Linked DNA regions of Homo sapiens: all the other regions are reported to be linked to region 1. The links are microRNA targets in miRTarBase. Many come from high-throughput screens and were not tested one by one. Region 1 holds a microRNA gene; each other region holds the end of a gene's coding sequence.
What was found. Region 1 holds the annotated microRNA hsa-miR-7974 (AGGCUGUGAUGCUCUCCUGAGCCC, at 1,663-1,686, shown strand). A microRNA usually pairs through its seed, bases 2 to 8, with sites in the 3' UTR of a target mRNA and lowers its output. Matches are read on the target gene's strand: a 7mer-m8 pairs with bases 2 to 8, a 7mer-A1 pairs with bases 2 to 7 and ends in A, and an 8mer does both.

Region 1 (4,224 bases):
GTGGGAGAGACAGACAGGGCACATGTAAACAAATGGCCACAGATGGCATCTAGGTACTACCTGGAGAAAACAGACAGCAAAGTTAAGGTCGGCTAGAGTGACTGGGCAGGGAGTGGCCTCTTGGAGGGGATGCATTTGGGGGAGACCTGAGTGAAGTGGGGAGGGAGCAAGACAGTTATCTAGAGGAAGCAGGCACAGCCTGTGCCAAGGCCCTGAGGCAGGGCCACACCTAGCCCGCTCCAGGAACAGCGAGGAGGCCATGTGGCTGGAGTGGAGTGCAGTCACCAAGTGGGTGAGGGCGGGGAGGTGACAAGTCACAGTGGGCCTTGTGGGCCGAAGGGAGGACTTTGGCTTTTACCCTGAGGGAGTTGGTCTTGCTGTGTCATCCAGGCTGGAGTGCAGTGTTGCGACCTTGGCTCACTGCATCCTCCACCTCCCAGGCTCAAGCGATCCTCCTACCTCAGCCTCCCAAGTAGCTGGGACAAAAGGCATACACCACCATGCCGGCCAATTTTTGTATTTTTAGTAAAGATGGGTTTTCGCCATGTTAGCCAGGCTGGTTTCAAACTCCTGGCCTTAAGTGATCCGCCTGCCTCTGCCTCCCAAAGTGCTAGGATTGCAGGTGTGAGTCATTGCGCCTGGCCCAGTGGATTCTGAGCAGAGGAGGGAACAGACTTGACTCGGGCATTCACAGGCGCCCCCTTGCGGCTGTAGGGGGTGGTTAGGGCGGGAGCCTGGGAGTCCTGGGCCTGAGGACTGCGCTGGTCTAGGCGTTTGATGAAGATGAGAACAATTAACAAGCAGCTAACAATTATTATGCACCTACTGTGCACCAGGCTCCACTGTTTACATGACTTTGCCAATAGAACAGTCCCCGTTACCTCCAGGGGGTGCCTCTCCTCTCTGAGCCTCAGTTTCCCCCTTTAAACTGGGTACAGGCCTGGATGGTACTCAGGAGGGCCTCCAAACCCATGGGACCCATAAAGCCCCGGTGGTTCAGGCAGCCATGTCACCATGGGCTGAGCCCTGTCCCTTATACCCACTCCTCGGCCCTGTGTCCATAGGGCGGCGACGCAACGTGAACTGCCTGAAGAACGTGGTGATCTGGTACGAGGACCACAAGCACCGCTGCCCGTACGAGCCGCACCTGGCGGAGCTAGACCCCACTTTTGGCCTGTACACCACGGCCGTGTGGCAGTGCGAAGCTGGCCACCGCTACTTCCAGGACCTGCATTCGCCCCTGAAGCCCCTCAGCGACTCAGACCCTGACAGTGACAAAGGTAGGTCTGCAGGGCGAGGGCACATAGGGGGCCGCCCATTTCTGGGGGCTTCTTACGAGCCCTAGGCTAGCATCACAAACAGAATAGCAGCCACAGTGGCTCTGGCTCTGGCTCTGGCACTGGGGCAGAGCAGGGACACGATGGGCCAGGCTGAGTCCTTCGTGGCCTTGCCCTCTTTGCGTCCTTACAGAGCTTGAGTGGGGAGGCAGTCCCTCTTTATGGAGCAGTTTGCCAATCTGTGCCCAAGGCCAGTCCCAGGCAGGGCTGGCTGAGGGCCCAGGAGCCCTGGCTTGGCAGCTGGGGCGGGGGCAGGCCTGCTGGGGCAGGGCTCGGCCCCCACAGCGAAACGGCCGCCTAAACCACCCAGGCCTTATGGCTTCATAGGCTGTGATGCTCTCCTGAGCCCTGGCTAAGCTGGCCGCTACCTCCTTTTCGATTTTCTCTGGCTCCCAGTTGCATTCTCTTGCCTTCTGCCTTTCCAGGCTTCGTTTCTTGCCTTCCCCCTCCATTCTGTTTCCCTCCTGTTCCCCATTTCTCCTCCCTTGAGCTGCCTCTGTCTCCTCCTTCCTTGATCTTTCATTTTCTGTCTCATCTCCCTCTCTCTCTTTCTCTTGTTTCCTTCTATTCCCCTTTCTCCTCCTCCCTCCCCACCTTCGCGGTCCCTGCCTCTCTCCTTCCCATCCCACGGGGCAGGGACTCAGTGAGGGAGGCTCAGTTGGCCCCGGTGAGTGGTGAGGGGGCTGCCGGCAGCCTCAGGGGTTCGGCAATGGCTGGAGAAGGAGCGTAGGGCACACTGCCAGGCGTCCTGTCAGGGCTGAGGGTGGGGCGGTCACCAGGGCTGAGCCTGCGCTGGCTGGCATCTCGGAGCAGGTGGCATCCCAGCTGGCCGAGGGGAAGCCGGGGGCGAGAGGTGTTCCGGGTGGGCGCCCCCGCCAACGACCGTCCCACCAAGTGTCGGCCAGGCTCTCAGCGTGCAGTGGCCTCTCGGCTGCCCCATCCCATGATCTGCATTCCGCCCTCCTCTGCCTTTTACTGCCCCCTCACTGTGTGCCACTCCTGGCCCTGCCCAGAGCCACCATGAATCTTCCCCATGGCCTTGTCATCAGCCCCACTTGGCAGTCAAGGAATCCCAAGCCCCAGGAGTGATCTGACTGGCCCATTTGGTGATGGGTCAGGCTGGGGTGTGGGTGGTGCCCAGAGCAGCTTACTTACGCCCCAACTCAACTTTTTATTATTTATTTATGTATGTATTTATTTATCTGAGACAGGGTCTCGCTCTTGTCGCCCAGGCTGGAGTGCAATGGCGCGATCTCGGCTCACTGCAAGCCAAGCCTCAGGTTCCAGCCATTCTCCTTCCTCAGCCTCCCTAGTAGCTGGGATTACAGGCATCTGCCACCACACCTGGCTAATTTTTGTATTTTTAGTAGACACTGGGTTTCACCATGTTGGCCGGCTGGTCTTGAACTCCTGACCTCAGTTGATCCACCCACCTCGGCCTTCCAAAGTTCTGGGATTACAGGCGTGAGCCACTGCACCCGGCCTTATGTTATGTTATGTTATGTTATGTTTTATGTTATGTTATGTTATGTTATGTTATGTTATGTTATGTTATGTTATGTTATCTTTTTGAGACAGATTCTGTCTCTGTCACCCAAGCTGGAGTGCAGTGGTGCGATCTTGGCTCACTGCAACCTCTGCCTCCCAGGTTGAAGCAATTCTCTCACCTCAGCCTCCCTAGTAGCTGGGATTACAGGCGTGAGCCACCATGCCCAGCTAATTTTTGTATTTTTAGTAGACGTGGGTTTTCACCACTTTGGCCAGGCTGGTCTCGAACTCCCAGCCTCAAGTGATCCTCCTGCCTCGGCCTCCCTAAGTGCTGGGATTACTGGTGTGAGCCACCATACCTGGCTTTTTATTTTTATTTATTTTTTTTAAGACAGGGTCTCACGGTTGCCCAGGCTGGAGTGCAGTGGTGCCATCATAGCTCACTTCAGCCTCCAATTCCTGGGCTCAAGTGATCCTCCCACCCTGGCCTCCTGAGTAGCTGGGAACACAGGCACACACCACCACAGCCAGCTGATTTTTAAATTTTTTGTAGAGATGGGATCTCACTGTGTTGCCCAGGCTGGTCTCAAACTCCTGGGATCTAGTAATCCTCCTGCCTTGGCCTCCCAAAGTGCTGGGATTACAGGCATATGCCACCGGGCCTTGCCCATGGCTATTTCTGTTGGTGCTGTCATTACCTGAGGAGAAGTCTGGGGTCAGCCAAACTTAGCAGGTGCTGCAGTCAGGTGGACCCAGACGCGTGCTCTGGCCCTTCCCTCCACTCATTAGGACACTGCGCCCTCCTTCTGGATGGTGCCAGAGAGTTTGCCCACCCTGCAGAATACAGGACAAGGGGAAATTATCCAGAAAGAGGGGCTGATCCTCCTTATCCCCAACCCTGCTGCCACCCCAGGTCCATCAACAGTGGGCATCTCACTGCCCTGAATGGCACTGAGATAATAATAGGAAACTTACAGGGTACATACTTTTAATCTCCTACTGTCCTAAACCCTTATACATATTTACTCATTAAAGACCCAAAACAAAGGCTGGGCACGGTGGCTCACACCTGTAATCCCAGCACTTTGGGAGGCCGAGGCAGGTGGATCACTTGAGACCAGGAGCTCAAGACCAGCCTGGCCAACATGGTGAAACCCCATCTCTACTAAAAATACAAAAATGAGCTGGGCATGGTGGCGCATGCCTGTAATCCTAGCTACTTGGGAGGCTGAGGCAGGAGAATCACTGAAACCCAGGAGGCGGAGGTTGCAGTGAGCCAAGATCGCACCACTGCATTCCAGCCTGGGCAACAGAGCAAGACTCTGTCTAGAAAAAAAAAAAAACACTCCCGAGGGCCGGGTACAGTGGCTCACACCTGTAATGCCAGCCCAGCACTTTG
Region 2 (4,224 bases), not on the chromosome of region 1:
TTCAATACATAGTTTAATTAAATCCATTCTTTAGTTGGGAAAAAAAAGGTTTAATTATTTGTCTTCAGAGACAAGAATCAACACTGTTTTAGTGTTCCTTGTTACACTTTATATATATATATGTGTGTGTGTATATATATGTGGACATTGATCTATATACGGCTTATATGTCATTGTCTAGGGTGAGCAGCATGCATGGGTATGAAGAGGCAAGTAAACTGCATTGTGTCATCCAAGTAAAACACAGCACGGCCTCCTGCCACTGACAGACCCTGTTTCCATAATTTCTGGATGAGAAAGCCAAGTCATGTCAGTAGTTAATCAGCTCTGGAGGAAAGTGAACACCTATAAACACGGCAGAATGCAATACTTCCAGAAAGGCTTTTAACACCTACAGAATCTAAACATTTTGTAAGAGGTGGGGTTAACAAGCTTGTGTGCTATTTGGGGGTGGGGCTGAGCATCAGAGGCAAAGTTTTTCGTAAGCCTCTTTCTCTCGATGGATTAGGCAGGAATGACTTTCCTCCAGGGGACGGTCCCATCTTCAGAAAGTTAAAAGGGTCCATTTGGGATCCCAGAGCCTAGCACGGTGCTATGTACAAAGCGGTGGCCCAAGGTTTCTTGAATGAATAAAAAACTCAAGAGCACAGAGAAAATCTGGCTCTCCCAAGTAAACTGTAATTTACATTTTCATGGGATTATAATAGGATCTTCAGTGAGTGGAGCAAGAAGATAGACAGCAGTAATCCGGAAGGCAGCATAGGAGTAATAGCAAAAGTTAAGAGATGTAGGGGCCACAGTGAAAACAGCTTTGTGACTGTGGGAGAGTCCCAGAAACAGTATTTCTTTCCTTATCCACACACGGAGCATGGCCCAAGAACCCCCAGCTCTAGAACTCTGTTATTCTTTAAGCAATAAGTGCTCTGGTTCAATCAACTGTGGTCAAAGACCACTTCATCTGCCTCTAAAGCCATTCCGCGAATAGTGTGGCCTCTTAAGCTTTTCTCTTAGCTGTACATTCTCTTGTCAACTGTAGGTTTCATGAAGCACATGGTTTCCTTCAAAACAGAACAAAAAACTTTAAGGTAAGTCATAAGGATGGTTTCCTCTTGTGAAAAATGGGGAAGTTAGTCTATATCATGTCTATGGTCTCTACCAGATCCATGAGTCAGAGAAAACATGAAGCGCATCACATTTTTTGGGCAACCCATAGAACTATCCTACTCTCCAGCCATCCTAACTGCCACTGTGCCTGGGGCTGTGCAATGCTGCTGCCTCCTCTGTTCTTATCCCTGTGTCTGCTTTGGGAACGCCCCCTTATCGCTGGGTTCTCAGCCCAGGCATCTGGGACCTCTGGCTAGAAATCCTCAGGTAAAGACGATCCTCCTTCCTGAGTCCTCCCATTTCACATCAGGACTTCTAATCTAACACGGATCTCATTTTCCTGAGAATTTTAGTCTCCATGCCAACCTCCCTCACTATAAAATGAATTTCTTGCAACAGGGATCTTACTTGTTTTGCGTCCCCAGTGGCTAGCACATTTTGTTGAGAATTCATTCAAAATATTCAGGAGACTCAACCATATAAAGATGGTGCCAATTGCCCATGTGCTATTTGGGCTGCCATCTGTAGGATGTGGCTTCAAGTTAGAGCTCCCTTGGCAGTTTTAAAGGATCCTTGTTAGTAGATGGTTCCATTTTTTACTTTGTGCCTACTTCTCATTTGTGAATAAATGTCCCCCCCCAAAGTCAACACTAGTCTAATAAAAGAAGCAAAGGAAATGTGCGTTAACATCTACATACAAATTTTGTGAAATTGCTACTTGTTAGAATAACATAATAGAGCTTATGACATAACAATATAAAAACAAAAATGATTTTTAGTGAGGTCTGAGTTAATTATTGCTTTTTTAAAAAACCACAGTTTTAAAACAAAGGAAAAAAAAAGAAGGCTGTTTATTTTTTTTTCTTTCTCATGGCCAGAATTGAAAATTTTCTCATCCAGAAATTTAGGGCACCCAATTATTGAATACCCTTATCATATTGCTTTAAATGACAGAAAGATTAAAGCTGGCATCCTCTATAGTATACTAAGCATGAATGTAAAGTATGAGAATAAATAGGAGACTCTCCTAAATGTCAAATTACAAAACCGCTCAAAACTTTGTAATTGTGACTCATGCAAATACCTTGTTAGGTCAACTTAATATTACAAATACTGCATCAGCTCGGTGCCTTTATATCCCTTTTCATAAAAAAGAAATTCTCACTCCACTCCTGAAGCCAGCAAACAGCTCTGGAGGAATTACCTGTACACCCAAGTGCCACGGTCACTCTGGAATTTTAATACACACACACACACACCCTTACTCATGAACATACACATTTTACAAACACACAATGGTGTACACACACACACACACACATCCACACACACCCCATCTTTAGGATTTGTAGCTGATTCCAAGCCTGCACTTATTTCTATTCTATATTTTTCTTTGTATCATCCTGAAACACACTGGTTGCTCAGCAAAAATAGTATCTCTTACCTCCTTATTTTATTCCCATTCTTTCTCCTTCCCTCCCTTTTTCTCTCTCTACCTTCCTGACTTTTCTTTCGTGTTTCCTTTCTGATTGATCCAAAAGGAATCCATCATTCTTCTTCCTATCTCTAAGGCCCACTTTATAATACAAAATAGTTATAAACACCTTTTTATTTCTTATCATCTACCTCTCCAAGGCAGAGTTCGCCTTTTTTTTCAATTATTGCCGCTCTAAAAATGCCCCCACCATCTTGAACCAAGTTGTTCAACGCGTACAGATTCTATACGTGTATATACTCCCCCATCCCATCATAAAAATAGTTGTTGCCCACTAAATATAGTTTTCCTATGAAGAAACATAACTGTGAAAATGTGTTCTCATAAACTGCAGATCAGTGAATATTATAAGCAGACACGATCCTAAAGCTAACATCATCCATTTGGTTTGTTTTTCTCTTCCCCTTTCTCAGCCTCCTCATGTAGAATAGATTGTGTTTGTGACATGAAGAACTATTGTCTTAAAATATGGATTTTATGAATTGTGATCATGAGTTGTTCTCAATTAAAAATAATTAAATGTAGGAGAAGTGGAATCATAACTGCCTCTTCTGGGCAAATATGGAGAGAAACGCCATTCATTTTATGGCTGCTGGAGAAAATGGAGTTAATGCAACACCCTCTGATGCTGCAAGTGACAGGTGGGAAACTGGTGCAGGGAAATATCCTGTGCCATGTAGGCTGCACCAGCCTGGGCCCTACTGCTCTCTAAGTGGCCCTACCACCATTGTCCTTCATCGCCCAGAGAGGCTGGTCTCAGTTCCGCCTGCAGCAACTATGTTGATTTGCTTGTAACATGTTTTGTCCTTTTGGATCCATTGTAGATTGGCCCCAAACCAGACACTGGGATTGAGTCACCAAAAAAGTCCTTTCTCTTTTGATTCCTGGGTGTCCAGAGTCTGATGGGGGGACTTCCTTTTCGTTTCATTTTCATCATTGTATATTGCAGCTTCTGGTCTACATAAGGATTGCTGAGTTTGTTTGCACTTTAATAAATAGTCCATTAAAATGCTTTCAGTTGTTAATTTCTTGGTTTCTTGGTCTCCCAAGCACCAAAGACGCTTCCTGGGTTGAAGGAAGTTTATTCGTTGTCTTCTTCCTCCTGGTTGGCATAGATCCCTGCTTCCCAGCGCAAAGCCAGTGCGCTCTTTCTTCGATTAACCCGTGTGGCCTCGAGGACCTGTAAAGAGAGGGGAAAAAATTATGCAGAGTTCATGGATGTTAATTATGAACATAAACCGACTTCTCTGTTTCTTTCTTCCTTTCTCTTTATCAACTTGAGAGGAGAAAGTGATAAAGCACTGCTGGGAGATAGGAGAGACGCTGGAAAAAGGGGAATGGGAGGTTCTGGTTATGCATTCATCTCACAGCCAGTATTCATCTGCTACTTGACCCCTAGTTTTCACCATAGAGAAATTTAATTTTCATGAAATGTTCTGCAAGTTTCTTTGAACTAGCCGTGATTCTGCATCAAGTTTTCAGATAAAGCAGATCCCTACACGCAGCAGATCAGTGCTGTCCAATTGAACTTTATGCAATGATGAAAACGTATCTCTGCTATCCAGTATGGTAGCCACTAGCCATACGTGGCTATTGAGCACTTGAAATAGGGCTAGTGTGGCTGA
Region 3 (4,224 bases), not on the chromosome of region 1:
CAGGCTGAGGTGCAGGGCCGAGGGCTTGGGTGAGGGGCATCTCCAGGAGGGTCCGGGCGTCGGGGTGGGGGTGGGGGCTGCAGTGGGCATGGAGGAACAGAGGGAGAGACTTAATTGGGGAGGGGGGACTGGACTGCTGAGGGACCCGCGGGCCGAGTTGCGCTTCATGTCTGAGGCCCAGGACTGAGTGGGCTGAGAGGCCCAAGAGTCAGCGCCTTTGGGTGGGTCTGGGAGGGGCTGCCATGCACAGTGAGCGCTCCCTGTGTGGGGCCTGGAGATGTGCCAGACACCCCGGTGAAGGTCCTGGGCCTGCCAGCTGAGTCCCCAAGACCCTGGCCAGTGCCGCTGGGTTCCCGGGGCTCCCCGAGCTAACCCCAGGCCTGTGGGCTCTGTTTTCTGGAGCAGGCGCCTGGTCAGGGACACCTCCTCAGCCCAAGTCCTCATTTTATGCATTTGGTGTTTTTCAGATTTTGCAAGAACGAGGCTCAAGGATGTGAGGGACACAGTATTGACAGCTGAAGAAATGATTTACGTTTTCCCGAGATGTAATGAACTGCCATGTCCAGGAAGCTTGGCTGTGAGAAGAAACCTGCTTTTGATCATTTTTCTAGAGATCTGGGTGTGAATCCTTTTTTGCCTCTGAGGTGGGTGGTGAGAGACGGGCCCAGCTGTCCAAGGCCAGACGTCCCCAAGTTGGGGGAGCACGGCGGCCGGGTGGGCGCTGCCTCTTGGGGGGGCCTCGCTCTGTTTTTTCCAAGTGCCACGTGGGACTGAGGCAGACACTCCCAGTCAGCCCGCTCGATCCTGAAGATCGTGTGAAGGAAGCGTTCTTGGTGCTACACACAGTCTGGAAAAGCAGCCTGGGCTTCACTGGCAGGAAGCGGCCGCAGCCGCGTCAGTGTCCAGCACGTCGTGGCCTCTGGTCCGACCACCAGGCCCTAGTCTCGGTCAGGGAGTCTGCTCTGCCTCCCAGGCGGGATCGCTGGTTTCTCTCGACCTCGCAGAGCTCCTGACAAAGGCGGCTTCTGCGTCGTCACTGCTTCCCGGCGCCATTCCGAGGCCGGGCCTTCTTCTGACACGGGCTCCAACCCCACCTGACCAAGCCCGGGACAGTCAAGGCTTCTCAATTTGTATTTTCCAGGCAAGAGAACTTTGTACCCCTTCTCTGTGTGGATAGACTCCCCAGCGTTTTTCCTCTGGAAATGCCCACAGGGCTTGCCGCGTGGAGACTGATCTGTTCCATCCGTTAGCGCGAGGTAGCAGTGTCGCCTCGCCCCTCCCACTGCGGGCTCACGGGGAGCTGGCGTCTGTCAGTGCCTTGTCACGCCTGGCATAGAGGTTGGGCTGGAGGCCTGTCCACTGGCTTCTGGAGCTGAAGGTCTGCGTCACGGTGAAAATTCGGGATGTTTACAGAGCATCACAAATGCCTCTCTCTCGCCGCTCTCTCATTTTCTTTGTATAACTATGCAGCCTTCCCTCTCTTTCTGGGATGTTTGGGACTTCACTCGACCTGCACGGGCTCTGCCCGACATGCCGTGGGAGCTGCTGGGATTCCTTTAGAAACCGCTGCCCGCATGCTTTGAAAACAGACCTTTCTCAGCTGGCTGTGGGGACCTGTCAGAGTCTGGGGACTCGGCGTGCAGGGCGGGCTCCAAGCGCTTTGCTTCCGGAACTCCGGCTTCCCAAGGGGTACTGTGCAGACTGACCACCGGCCTCCCGCCTGCAGGTCAGAGGCTCTGACACTGTCTGGTTTCCAATGCTTCTGGAGACTTCCTGCCTAGGCCTCATCCTCCTCTTTGCCAGTCACCTGATTAACCAATTCTCCAGCATTAGGACTTACCTCCTTCTTTTTGTAAGGTCTCTTGTATGTTGTTAAATGTTTGGCTTAAACAATTTATAAAAGCCTTTCTAGAAGGCAGACTTAGCCCCAGCAGAGCCTGGGAGGAAGGCGGCCGCTGGGGCTCCTGGGCATCCTCTCTGGGGAGCTGCTGGCCGCTTAGCGTTGTTTGATTTTTGACCTTGACATAGTAGATAGGCTTGTGGTTTTTTTAATTTAAAGATATTAAGACTTAATTCACTAAAATTTATTCTAAGGGGATATTTATACTTTTATACTTTTTTAGGTATCGTATTTTATCAGCTTACAGTTTAATGCCTAAGTTTCCCCTGGAAATAGCAAATAAAATTGTGTATTTATGAATGCGCGTAGTAGCTGTTTATGGTCTTAAGATGCAGGGGAATGCCACCCCGGGTCGCTCGGACCAAGGTGCTGCCCCTCCAAGCCGCCCAGCCCCACTGGCCGCGGCGGCTCACTCAGGGCTCTGCCTCTGCCTCTCAGTCGATGGCCAGGGCGGAGCTGGGCCATCCACGGGGTGCCGGCTTGGCCAGGGTCACTGGATCAGAGCTGCACGGCCCATCCCTGCACCCCACTCTGCCTGGACCCCTCACCTACCTCCAGCAGATAGCATACCCCCATCCCGGGAGACCGGAGACCATGTACAAGGGCCTTTTTTTTTCCTTAAGAGACAGGGGTCTTGCTATGTTGCCCAGGCTGGTCTTGAACTGCTGGGCTCAAGTGATCCTCCTGCCTCAGCCTCCTGAGCAGTTGGGATTACAGGCGTGAGCCATTGCGCGCGGCTCAAGTGATGTTTTTTTGAAAGTCCTGATACCTCAAGTTAGCATCCACCTCTCTTCCCTCACTTTAGCCTGCAGCCTGGGTTGTGACAGCAGGAGCTTCCCGAGAAGGTCCTGGGGTCCCGGCACCCCCTCGCCAGCTGCTGTGACTCCTCCTGGTGGCTGCTCCACGAAGCCTTGGCTGTTGGACTCCCCGCCCCCCCGCAGGGAGATTCCCATTCACGGTGTCCCCCAGGGCCTGGCTGTCTGAGGTCACAGAGCCTCAGGCTGTAGTGGCCTTGTCCATCCTGTTTCCAGGTGTGTGGCTGGCCCAGCCTGACCCCAGGGCCCTGGTGAGGGGTGGAGTGGGTGACTGGGCTTCTGGGTGCCCAGCATGAGGCCGGCACGGGGCTTGGAGTAGGGGAGAGACCCAGTTTCTGCTCCAAGGGGTCTTCCCGCTGCCCGACTCCCACCAGGAGCCTGGCTAGGCCTTACAGCCCCTTGACCAGGTAGAGTTGTGGGCACTTGGGAGAAGCCTCAGCGTGGCAGGCGTCCCCAGCCAAAGCCCGGAGCAGGTTTCCCATCCAAGCAAAAGGCTGTAAAGGAGACAGGCCCTGCAGTTTGGGTCCTGAAGCCGAGGATGCTCAGGGCCGCTGGGTCTGCTGGGCAGGGAGGGAGCCCTGTTCCTCCTCAGACCTTGGGCTCCAGCACAGCCCGCCCGCTGTGGGGACTGGGGCCCAGCCCTGTGGCTCCAGGAAGCCAGCGTGGGGGCAGAAGAGGAGGCAGGGGCGGGGCACATGCAGGTGCCCTGCGTGGGTGCCCGTCCTCCCCAGGCTTCCTGTAGAGCCCATGACTGGAGCCCTCCAGCGGCTGGCACCACCCTCCTTGACATCCCTGCATTTATTGGTGTCCACTCAGCAGGGACTTCTAGCACCCTCCTTCCTCCTAAAGCTCGTGGCAGTGGCCGGCTGGGGCGATGAAGAGCTGACCCCACAGTGCAGCCACCAAGGCCCTGACGTGGCATCTGTGTGAGGGACGATGACTTCCGGCACCTCTGCACTGAGCCGTGCCCCCCAAGATGGGTCACTTTGCCCTCAGACCACCTCTTCCTCCCCAGTGTTCCCAGGCCTGGGGCTCGGCACAGGGAGGCCTGGCCTGTGGCTGACCCCTCACCGCAGTTCTGGCCCGAATGGAGCCCACAGACTTCTTTCCTGGGGCTCCCGCTCCTGCTCTGTGTGTGTGTGTGTGTGTGTGTGTGTGTGTGTGTGTGTGTGTGTACCTACTGGCTGTACATGGTGTGGGTGTGGTGTGTGCCTGTGTGCACATGGTGTGTGTGGCATGCACATGTGTGCTGTATGTGATGTGTGGCATGTGGTGTGTGCTTGGTATGTGGTGTGTGCCTGTGTGTGGCATGTGACATGCATGTGTTGTGTGTGCCTGTGAGTGGCATGGGAATGGTGTGTGTATGTGTGCACATGGGCCAGCTGAGCCTGGGGATGAAGGCTGCCGCCCGCTCTGCCTACCTCCCTGTGAGCCACAGAATGTGCGCGGGCCTGTGCCAGGCTCTCCCTCGAGTCCCTCCTGGAGCTGGCAGGGGCCCTGCTGCCGCCC
Region 4 (4,224 bases), not on the chromosome of region 1:
CCGCCCCCGGCCCCGGGGTCCTGACCACCTCTCCGCCCCCGGCCCCGGGTTCCTGACCACCTCTCCGCCCCCGGCCCCGGGGTCCTGACCACCTCTCCGCCCCCGGCCCCGGGTTCCTGACCACCTCTCCGCCCCCGGCCCCGGGGTCCTGACCACCTCTCCGCCCCCGGCCCCGGGTTCCTGACCACCTCTCCGCCCCCGGCCCCGGGGTCCTGACCACCTCTCCGCCCCCGGCCCCGGGTTCCTGACCACCTCTCCGCCCCCGGCCCCGGGGTCCTGACCACCTCTCCGTCCCCAACCCCGGGGTCCTGACCACCTCTCTGCCCCCGGCCCCAGGGTCCTGCAGGCAGGGCTGGAGGTGGAGCGGCTCCGACTGCGGAATTTCTATCACCACTACCACTCCAAGAGGGGCATGTGGAGCGTCCGCAGCAGGAAGGGCTCTCGCACGGGGGCGTCTTGAGGACGGGCAGCCCCTCCCAGCCCCGGTGGGAGTCCCGAGGCAGCTGCTGGGGGCTGGGCTTTGAGCTCGGTCCCGAGAGACCCGGCAGGGCTGGTCAGAGGGGCACAGCCACCGCCTGTGCCTGCCCCTCTCTGGCCCACTGGGCGTCGTGCCCCTCCCCGGAGAGGCAGCCTTCACGGCGGGTCAGGGCCTGGCCTTGGTCCCCACTCTGCGATGATTTCTGTGAAATTTTGCTGTAGCGATGACATTGTTTTCAGAATTTCCAAGAGTTCTGTCTGTTCTGTTTTTTATTCAGAATGAAATGAAATATTTTTTTTAGTTCTGACTAGTCCTCTGTGCCTGTTCTCTTGAGAGGTAGAGTCCTCTCCCCTGGGGGACCCTGAGCACGACCTCCTGACTCCCAGCCGCAGCCCTTCCGGACCTCTCCTTCTCCTACCCCCAAGACCACTTTCCCCTTCCTGCCTGTGAGGTTCTGTGCCGGGCCCTGTGGGGAGGGGGCTTCCGACTTCCTCCGCCCTGTGTCTATGGGGTCTGTGCCCGCTGATAACAGACATAGATAGCACAGGGCCCTCCCACACTGAGGCGAGGAATGAGCAGTCACCACCTCAGTTCCCCTCATTCTGCAAACAGAATCGGGGTGTCATTCCCACCCCAGCCTCCTCTAGGGTGGAGGAGCTGCTGCACCCAGGTGGGGCATGTCGTGTGCTGGGGTTGGGGGTGATCAGGCAGAACTCAGGGTTGCCAGAAACAGAAACCCAACTCAAGCCAGTGAAGCCGTAATCAGGGGGCCTGTATGACTTTGGAACCCTCCAGGTCAGGGTCAGCAGGACACCAGAGAAGGACAGACTCAGAGGCTGGTCGAAGCCCACTCCTGCCTTGTCTCCTCTCTGCCTGTGGGTCCAGCTCAGTCCTGGCCTGGGCCAGGTCACAGGAGGGAGGCTGTACTCTGCCAGGCAGCGAGTGAGTGTGTGAGTTCCCTGTGGCTGCCGTAGCAAATTGGCACAAATGTAGTGGCTTAAAAAAATTATTATCTTACAGTTCTGGAGATAAAAAGTCCTAGAACTAAGCCCGGCACAGTGGCTCACGCCTGTAATCCCAGTACTTTGGGAGGCTGAAGCGTCCGGATCCCTAGACACGGTGGTGTGTACCTGTAGTCCCAACTACTTGGAAGGTTGAGGCAGGAGGATCACCTGAGCCCGGGAGGTCAGGGCTGCAGTGAGCTGTGGTTGCATCACTGCACTCCAGCCTGGGAAACAGAGCAAGGCCCTGTCTCGGAAAAAAAAAATGCTAAAATTAAGGTGTCAGCAGGGCTGGTTCCTTCGGGAGACTTAGGTGTGAGTCTGCGTCCGTGCCTTCTCCAGCTTCTCAAGGCCACCTGGATTTCAGCAGCTTGGCCTCTTCCCCTCTCTCACTCACTCTCTCTCTCCCTCTCTCCCTCATCTCCTCCTGTGACTCTGACCCTGCTGCCTTCTCTTATAAGGCCCCCTGCGATGACACTGGGCCCTCCCAGCAAACCCACGATAACCATCACGTCCCTCACTCAGTCACATCTGCAAAACCCCTTTGCCATGAAGGTAACAGTCACAGGTTCTGGGACTAGGACAGGCACATCTTGAGCGGTCACTCTTCTTTCTACCTCCTCGTTCACACGGGGTGGGAAAATAGCTCCTAGGCCCAGCAGCCAGAATTGTCCTCTGCAGATACGTCCTGAGGTCACTGCTCACCGTGCACTCACGGCAGCTGGGCGGTGGAGCCGAAGGAAGAACCAGGGGGACCTGCCGTGGACCAGAGCGGCATCCAGTCGCCTGGTGTGGGCTTCACAGGTCCTGCTGGTCCACAGGTGTGCAGGTCCACAGAGGTGCCCGCAGGGCAGGGGACATGGCTGGCCACACACATGCCCAGAAGCCATGTGCTGACCAGCTGTCCTGCCCGCTGATCCCTGTGTATCTAGTTCAGATGGACTTGTCCCCACTCACAGATGTTTCGCAGCAAGAGAAGAACTAGCCTTGGATTTAATGATCCACGCTAACCCAAGAAAATGAGAAAAGGATAGAAGAAATGTAAACCACAGGCAGGGGAAGCCTGCACATCAGAAAGAGAATTAACCTTGGAAAACAAAAAAGTCAAAATTCCATGTAATCTGGACGATTCACACCATCATTTAATCCGTTTAGCAATGATTCATTGCACACTCACTACATGTCCCGCACTGAGGAAAAGGCAGGGAACGGAACAGACAAAAACTGCTGCCCCCAAGGATCTTACATTCTAATACGGGGGGGAGCGGGGCACGACGACGCCATCAATAACACATCTGGTATACCAGCTGGCGGCAAGGGCAGTGGAGAGAAAGGAAGCCCGGGAAGGCAGCAGCCCATGTGAGCGTGACTGCGTTTCTAAGCAGGGTGCTCAGAAAGACCAAGCGTGAGAAGGTGAAGGCGGCCGAGGACACAGGCGGGGGAGGGCAGGGGTCAGCGGCAGCCTTTGAGGAAATTTCTTAAAAATCAATGATAAGGCTGGGCATAGTGGCTCACACCTGTAATCTCAGCACTTCGGGAGGCTGAGGCAGGAGTGATGGCAGCGGTGGCCCATCTAGAGTGGACACTGCCAAGATGCTGGCCGCAGCGGAGAGGCATGGCAGGGCCTCCCACTCCACAGAGCAGGCAGGAGCTCGGCCCTCCTGGGCACTGGGTTCGTTTGCGTGCACCTCAATATTCCTGTGCTCTTGGGGGCCCAGGAAGGCCCCCACCCGGCCCCCTGTAGGCTCAGAAGTACCTGCTCCTGCTGCCCCTGCGGAGCCTGGTGCTTCCAGTAGCTGGAACCGGGGCCCACAGTCCGCTCCCAGAGGTGTCTCCCAGCATGGTTGCGAGTCGGGTGAGGGGCGGCCCCAGGCTGCCCCTGAGTGTTGGAACTGCAGGGGGATCTTGTGGTGACATCGCCTCCCTCTGCCCCGGATGCCGACCCGGGCTCTGTGAGGGCCGAAAGTCTTCACCCCAGGCTGCAAGGAGGCGGACAGGGGAGCAGGATGACTGCAGGAGCAGCAGTGGCGGCAGCAGGTCCCCAGTGCCCCATGTCCCCAAGGCTGCCGACGGTGCCACCCCCACCCTCACACAGCTGGGCAAGACCCACTCCCAGGCCTGGAACCCCCACAGCCGGGCAAGACCCACTCCCAGGCCTGGAACCCCCACAGCCGGGCAAGACCCACTCCCAGGCCTGGAACCCCCACAGCCGGGCAAGACCCACTCCCAGGCCTGGAACCCCCACAGCCGGGCAAGACCCACTCCCAGGCCTGGAACCCCCACAGCCGGGCAAGACCCACTCCCAGGCCTGGAACCCCCACAGCCGGGCAAGACCCACTCCCAGGCCTGGAACCCCCACAGCCGGGCAAGACCCACTCCCAGGCCTGGAACCCCCACAGCCGGGCAAGACCCACTCCCAGGCCTGGAACCCCCACAGCCGGGCAAGACCCACTCCCAGGCCTGGAACCCCCACAGCCGGGCAAGACCCACTCCCAGGCCTGGAACCCCCACAGCCGGGCAAGACCCACTCCCAGGCCTGGAACCCCCACAGCCGGGCAAGACCCACTCCCAGGCCTGGAACCCCCACAGCCGGGCAAGACCCACTCCCAGGCCTGGAACCCCCACAGCCGGGCAAGACCCACTCCCAGGCCTGGAACCCCCACAGCCGGGCAAGACCCACTCCCAGGCCTGGAACCCCCACAGCCGGGCAAGACCCACTCCCAGGCCTGGAACCCCCACAGCCGG
Region 5 (4,000 bases), not on the chromosome of region 1:
GGGCGCAGCTGCGGCCGCCGCCGAGGCGGGCGCGGCCTCCGGGGAGCAGGCAGCGGCGCCGGGCGAGGAGGCGGCAGCGGGCGAGGAGGGGGCGGCGGGTGGCGACCCGCAGGAGGCCAAGCCCCAGGAGGCCGCTGTCGCGCCAGAGAAGCCGCCCGCCAGCGACGAGACCAAGGCCGCCGAGGAGCCCAGCAAGGTGGAGGAGAAAAAGGCCGAGGAGGCCGGGGCCAGCGCCGCCGCCTGCGAGGCCCCCTCCGCCGCCGGGCCCGGCGCGCCCCCGGAGCAGGAGGCAGCCCCCGCGGAGGAGCCCGCGGCCGCCGCAGCCTCGTCAGCCTGCGCAGCCCCCTCACAGGAGGCCCAGCCCGAGTGCAGTCCAGAAGCCCCCCCAGCGGAGGCGGCAGAGTAAAAGAGCAAGCTTTTGTGAGATAATCGAAGAACTTTTCTCCCCCGTTTGTTTGTTGGAGTGGTGCCAGGTACTGGTTTTGGAGAACTTGTCTACAACCAGGGATTGATTTTAAAGATGTCTTTTTTTATTTTACTTTTTTTTAAGCACCAAATTTTGTTGTTTTTTTTTTTTCTCCCCTCCCCACAGATCCCATCTCAAATCATTCTGTTAACCACCATTCCAACAGGTCGAGGAGAGCTTAAACACCTTCTTCCTCTGCCTTGTTTCTCTTTTATTTTTTATTTTTTCGCATCAGTATTAATGTTTTTGCATACTTTGCATCTTTATTCAAAAGTGTAAACTTTCTTTGTCAATCTATGGACATGCCCATATATGAAGGAGATGGGTGGGTCAAAAAGGGATATCAAATGAAGTGATGGGGTCACAATGGGGAAATTGAAGTGGTGCATAACATTGCCAAAATAGTGTGCCACTAGAAATGGTGTAAAGGCTGTCTTTTTTTTTTTTTTAAAAGAAAAGTTATTACCATGTATTTTGTGAGGCAGGTTTACAACACTACAAGTCTTGAGTTAAGAAGGAAAGAGGAAAAAAGAAAAAACACCAATACCCAGATTTAAAAAAAAAAAAACGATCATAGTCTTAGGAGTTCATTTAAACCATAGGAACTTTTCACTTATCTCATGTTAGCTGTACCAGTCAGTGATTAAGTAGAACTACAAGTTGTATAGGCTTTATTGTTTATTGCTGGTTTATGACCTTAATAAAGTGTAATTATGTATTACCAGCAGGGTGTTTTTAACTGTGACTATTGTATAAAAACAAATCTTGATATCCAGAAGCACATGAAGTTTGCAACTTTCCACCCTGCCCATTTTTGTAAAACTGCAGTCATCTTGGACCTTTTAAAACACAAATTTTAAACTCAACCAAGCTGTGATAAGTGGAATGGTTACTGTTTATACTGTGGTATGTTTTTGATTACAGCAGATAATGCTTTCTTTTCCAGTCGTCTTTGAGAATAAAGGAAAAAAAATCTTCAGATGCAATGGTTTTGTGTAGCATCTTGTCTATCATGTTTTGTAAATACTGGAGAAGCTTTGACCAATTTGACTTAGAGATGGAATGTAACTTTGCTTACAAAAATTGCTATTAAACTCCTGCTTAAGGTGTTCTAATTTTCTGTGAGCACACTAAAAGCGAAAAATAAATGTGAATAAAATGTACAAATTTGTTGTGTTTTTTTATGTTCTAATAATACTGAGACTTCTAGGTCTTAGGTTAATTTTTAGGAAGATCTTGCATGCCATCAGGAGTAAATTTTATTGTGGTTCTTAATCTGAAGTTTTCAAGCTCTGAAATTCATAATCCGCAGTGTCAGATTACGTAGAGGAAGATCTTACAACATTTCCATGTCAAATCTGTTACCATTTATTGGCATTTAGTTTTCATTTAAGAATTGAACATAATTATTTTTATTGTAGCTATATAGCATGTCAGATTAAATCATTTACAACAAAAGGGGTGTGAACCTAAGACTATTTAAATGTCTTATGAGAAAATTTCATAAAGCCATTCTCTTGTCATTCAGGTCCAGAAACAAATTTTAAACTGAGTGAGAGTCTATAGAATCCATACTGCAGATGGGTCATGAAATGTGACCAAATGTGTTTCAAAAATTGATGGTGTATTACCTGCTATTGTAATTGCTTAGTGCTTGGCTAATTTCCAAATTATTGCATAATATGTTCTACCTTAAGAAAACAGGTTTATGTAACAAAGTAATGGTGTTGAATGGATGATGTCAGTTCATGGGCCTTTAGCATAGTTTTAAGCATCCTTTTTTTTTTTTTTTTTTGAAAGTGTGTTAGCATCTTGTTACTCAAAGGATAAGACAGACAATAATACTTCACTGAATCTTAATAATCTTTACTAGTTTACCTCCTCTGCTCTTTGCCACCCGATAACTGGATATCTTTTCCTTCAAAGGACCCTAAACTGATTGAAATTTAAGATATGTATCAAAAACATTATTTCATTTAATGCACATCTGTTTTGCTGTTTTTGAGCAGTGTGCAGTTTAGGGTTCATGATAAATCATTGAACCACATGTGTAACAACTGAATGCCAAATCTTAAACTCATTAGAAAAATAACAAATTAGGTTTTGACACGCATTCTTAATTGGAATAATGGATCAAAAATAGTGGTTCATGACCTTACCAAACACCCTTGCTACTAATAAAATCAAATAACACTTAGAAGGGTATGTATTTTTAGTTAGGGTTTCTTGATCTTGGAGGATGTTTGAAAGTTAAAAATTGAATTTGGTAACCAAAGGACTGATTTATGGGTCTTTCCTATCTTAACCAACGTTTTCTTAGTTACCTAGATGGCCAAGTACAGTGCCTGGTATGTAGTAAGACTCAGTAAAAAAGTGGATTTTTAAAAATAACTCCCAAAGTGAATAGTCAAAAATCCTGTTAGCAAACTGTTATATATTGCTAAGTTTGTTCTTTTAACAGCTGGAATTTATTAAGATGCATTATTTTGATTTTATTCACTGCCTAAAACACTTTGGGTGGTATTGATGGAGTTGGTGGATTTTCCTCCAAGTGATTAAATGAAATTTGACGTATCTTTTCATCCAAAGTTTTGTACATCATGTTTTCTAACGGAAAAAAATGTTAATATGGCTTTTTTGTATTACTAAAAATAGCTTTGAGATTAAGGAAAAATAAATAACTCTTGTACAGTTCAGTATTGTCTATTAAATCTGTATTGGCAGTATGTATAATGGCATTTGCTGTGGTTACAAAATACTTCCTCTGGGTTATAATAATCATTTGATCCAATTCCTATTGCTTGTAAAATAAAGTTTTACCAGTTGATATAATCAAGCCTGCTAAAATAGGATTTTTTTTTACAAATTTTATTTTAAAATGCAAATATTTTTAGAGAAAATTTTTAAATCTTAAGTGTTAAAGGTAAGCATTCAGTTTAAGAGATTTAAATGATATGCTTGGCATTATATTTAACAAATAAAATTATATCCATTGAAGGTGAGTTGTATGCCCCCAAGCCAATTAAAAATTTTAACGATAGAACTTGATAACATATTTGAGAAACAATGCAATTTTTTTATCATATGAATATAAACAATATATCTTTTCAATTAAAGTTAAGGATTTGGGGTAAGGTACTTTTCACAGCCATATATATATATATATATATATATATATATATATATATATGTTTATTTATTTACTTATAGGCAGGTGTCTTACTATGTTGCTCAGGCTGGTCTTGAACTCTGGGCTCAAACGATCCTCCTGCCTCGGCCTCCCAAAGTTCTAGGATTACAGGCATGAGCCACCACACATCCCTGGACATGCAGTCATATTTTTTAGATAGATCCTTGACTAGCAGTTGGTAGGGGAGTATAGTTTAATGTAGCCTCAGTCAAGTTTGAAAATTTTTAAAAGTAAGTAAGAGATCTATTAGATTTTAACTTCCCTTTAATCATTCACTGCATATTGAGCATTTTTTTCCCCTCTCCACATCCTATGAAAGTAGAGTGTGCCACACAGGAATTTTA

Region 2: the mRNA of PALM2AKAP2 is a reported target of hsa-miR-7974. Seed matches in the 3' UTR shown: 7mer-m8 at 1,257-1,263.
Region 3: the mRNA of KCTD5 is a reported target of hsa-miR-7974. The part of its 3' UTR that is shown has no 7-base or 8-base seed match.
Region 4: the mRNA of B4GALNT4 is a reported target of hsa-miR-7974. Seed matches in the 3' UTR shown: 8mer at 564-571.
Region 5: miRTarBase lists MARCKS as a target of hsa-miR-7974. The part of its 3' UTR that is shown has no 7-base or 8-base seed match.

Annotation. Positions count from the first base shown.
Region 1 is chr19:11,493,006-11,497,229 of GRCh38, reverse strand. MIR7974 (microRNA 7974) reads left to right here and starts at 1,608; the gene lies at 1,608-1,686. It overlaps ZNF653 (zinc finger protein 653), which reads left to right. Exons shown (of 9, transcript NM_138783.4): 3 at 1,065-1,280. RefSeq lists a silencer at 588-637.
Region 2 is chr9:110,167,954-110,172,177 of GRCh38, reverse strand. PALM2AKAP2 (PALM2 and AKAP2 fusion) reads right to left here. Exons shown (of 11, transcript NM_007203.5): 11 at 1-3,779. The coding sequence ends at 3,681. Among named protein-coding and RNA genes, the nearest start is that of C9orf152, 38 kb to the left of the region's middle.
Region 3 is chr16:2,706,831-2,711,054 of GRCh38, forward strand. KCTD5 (potassium channel tetramerization domain containing 5) reads left to right here. Exons shown (of 6, transcript NM_018992.4): 6 at 468-2,200. The coding sequence ends at 497. Among named protein-coding and RNA genes, the nearest start is that of PRSS27, 11 kb to the right of the region's middle.
Region 4 is chr11:381,333-385,556 of GRCh38, forward strand. B4GALNT4 (beta-1,4-N-acetyl-galactosaminyltransferase 4) reads left to right here. Exons shown (of 20, transcript NM_178537.5): 20 at 337-785. The coding sequence ends at 460. Among named protein-coding and RNA genes, the nearest start is that of PKP3, 11 kb to the right of the region's middle.
Region 5 is chr6:113,860,174-113,864,173 of GRCh38, forward strand. MARCKS (myristoylated alanine rich protein kinase C substrate) reads left to right here. Exons shown (of 2, transcript NM_002356.7): 2 at 1-3,302. The coding sequence ends at 406. Among named protein-coding and RNA genes, the nearest start is that of MARCKS, 4.8 kb to the left of the region's middle.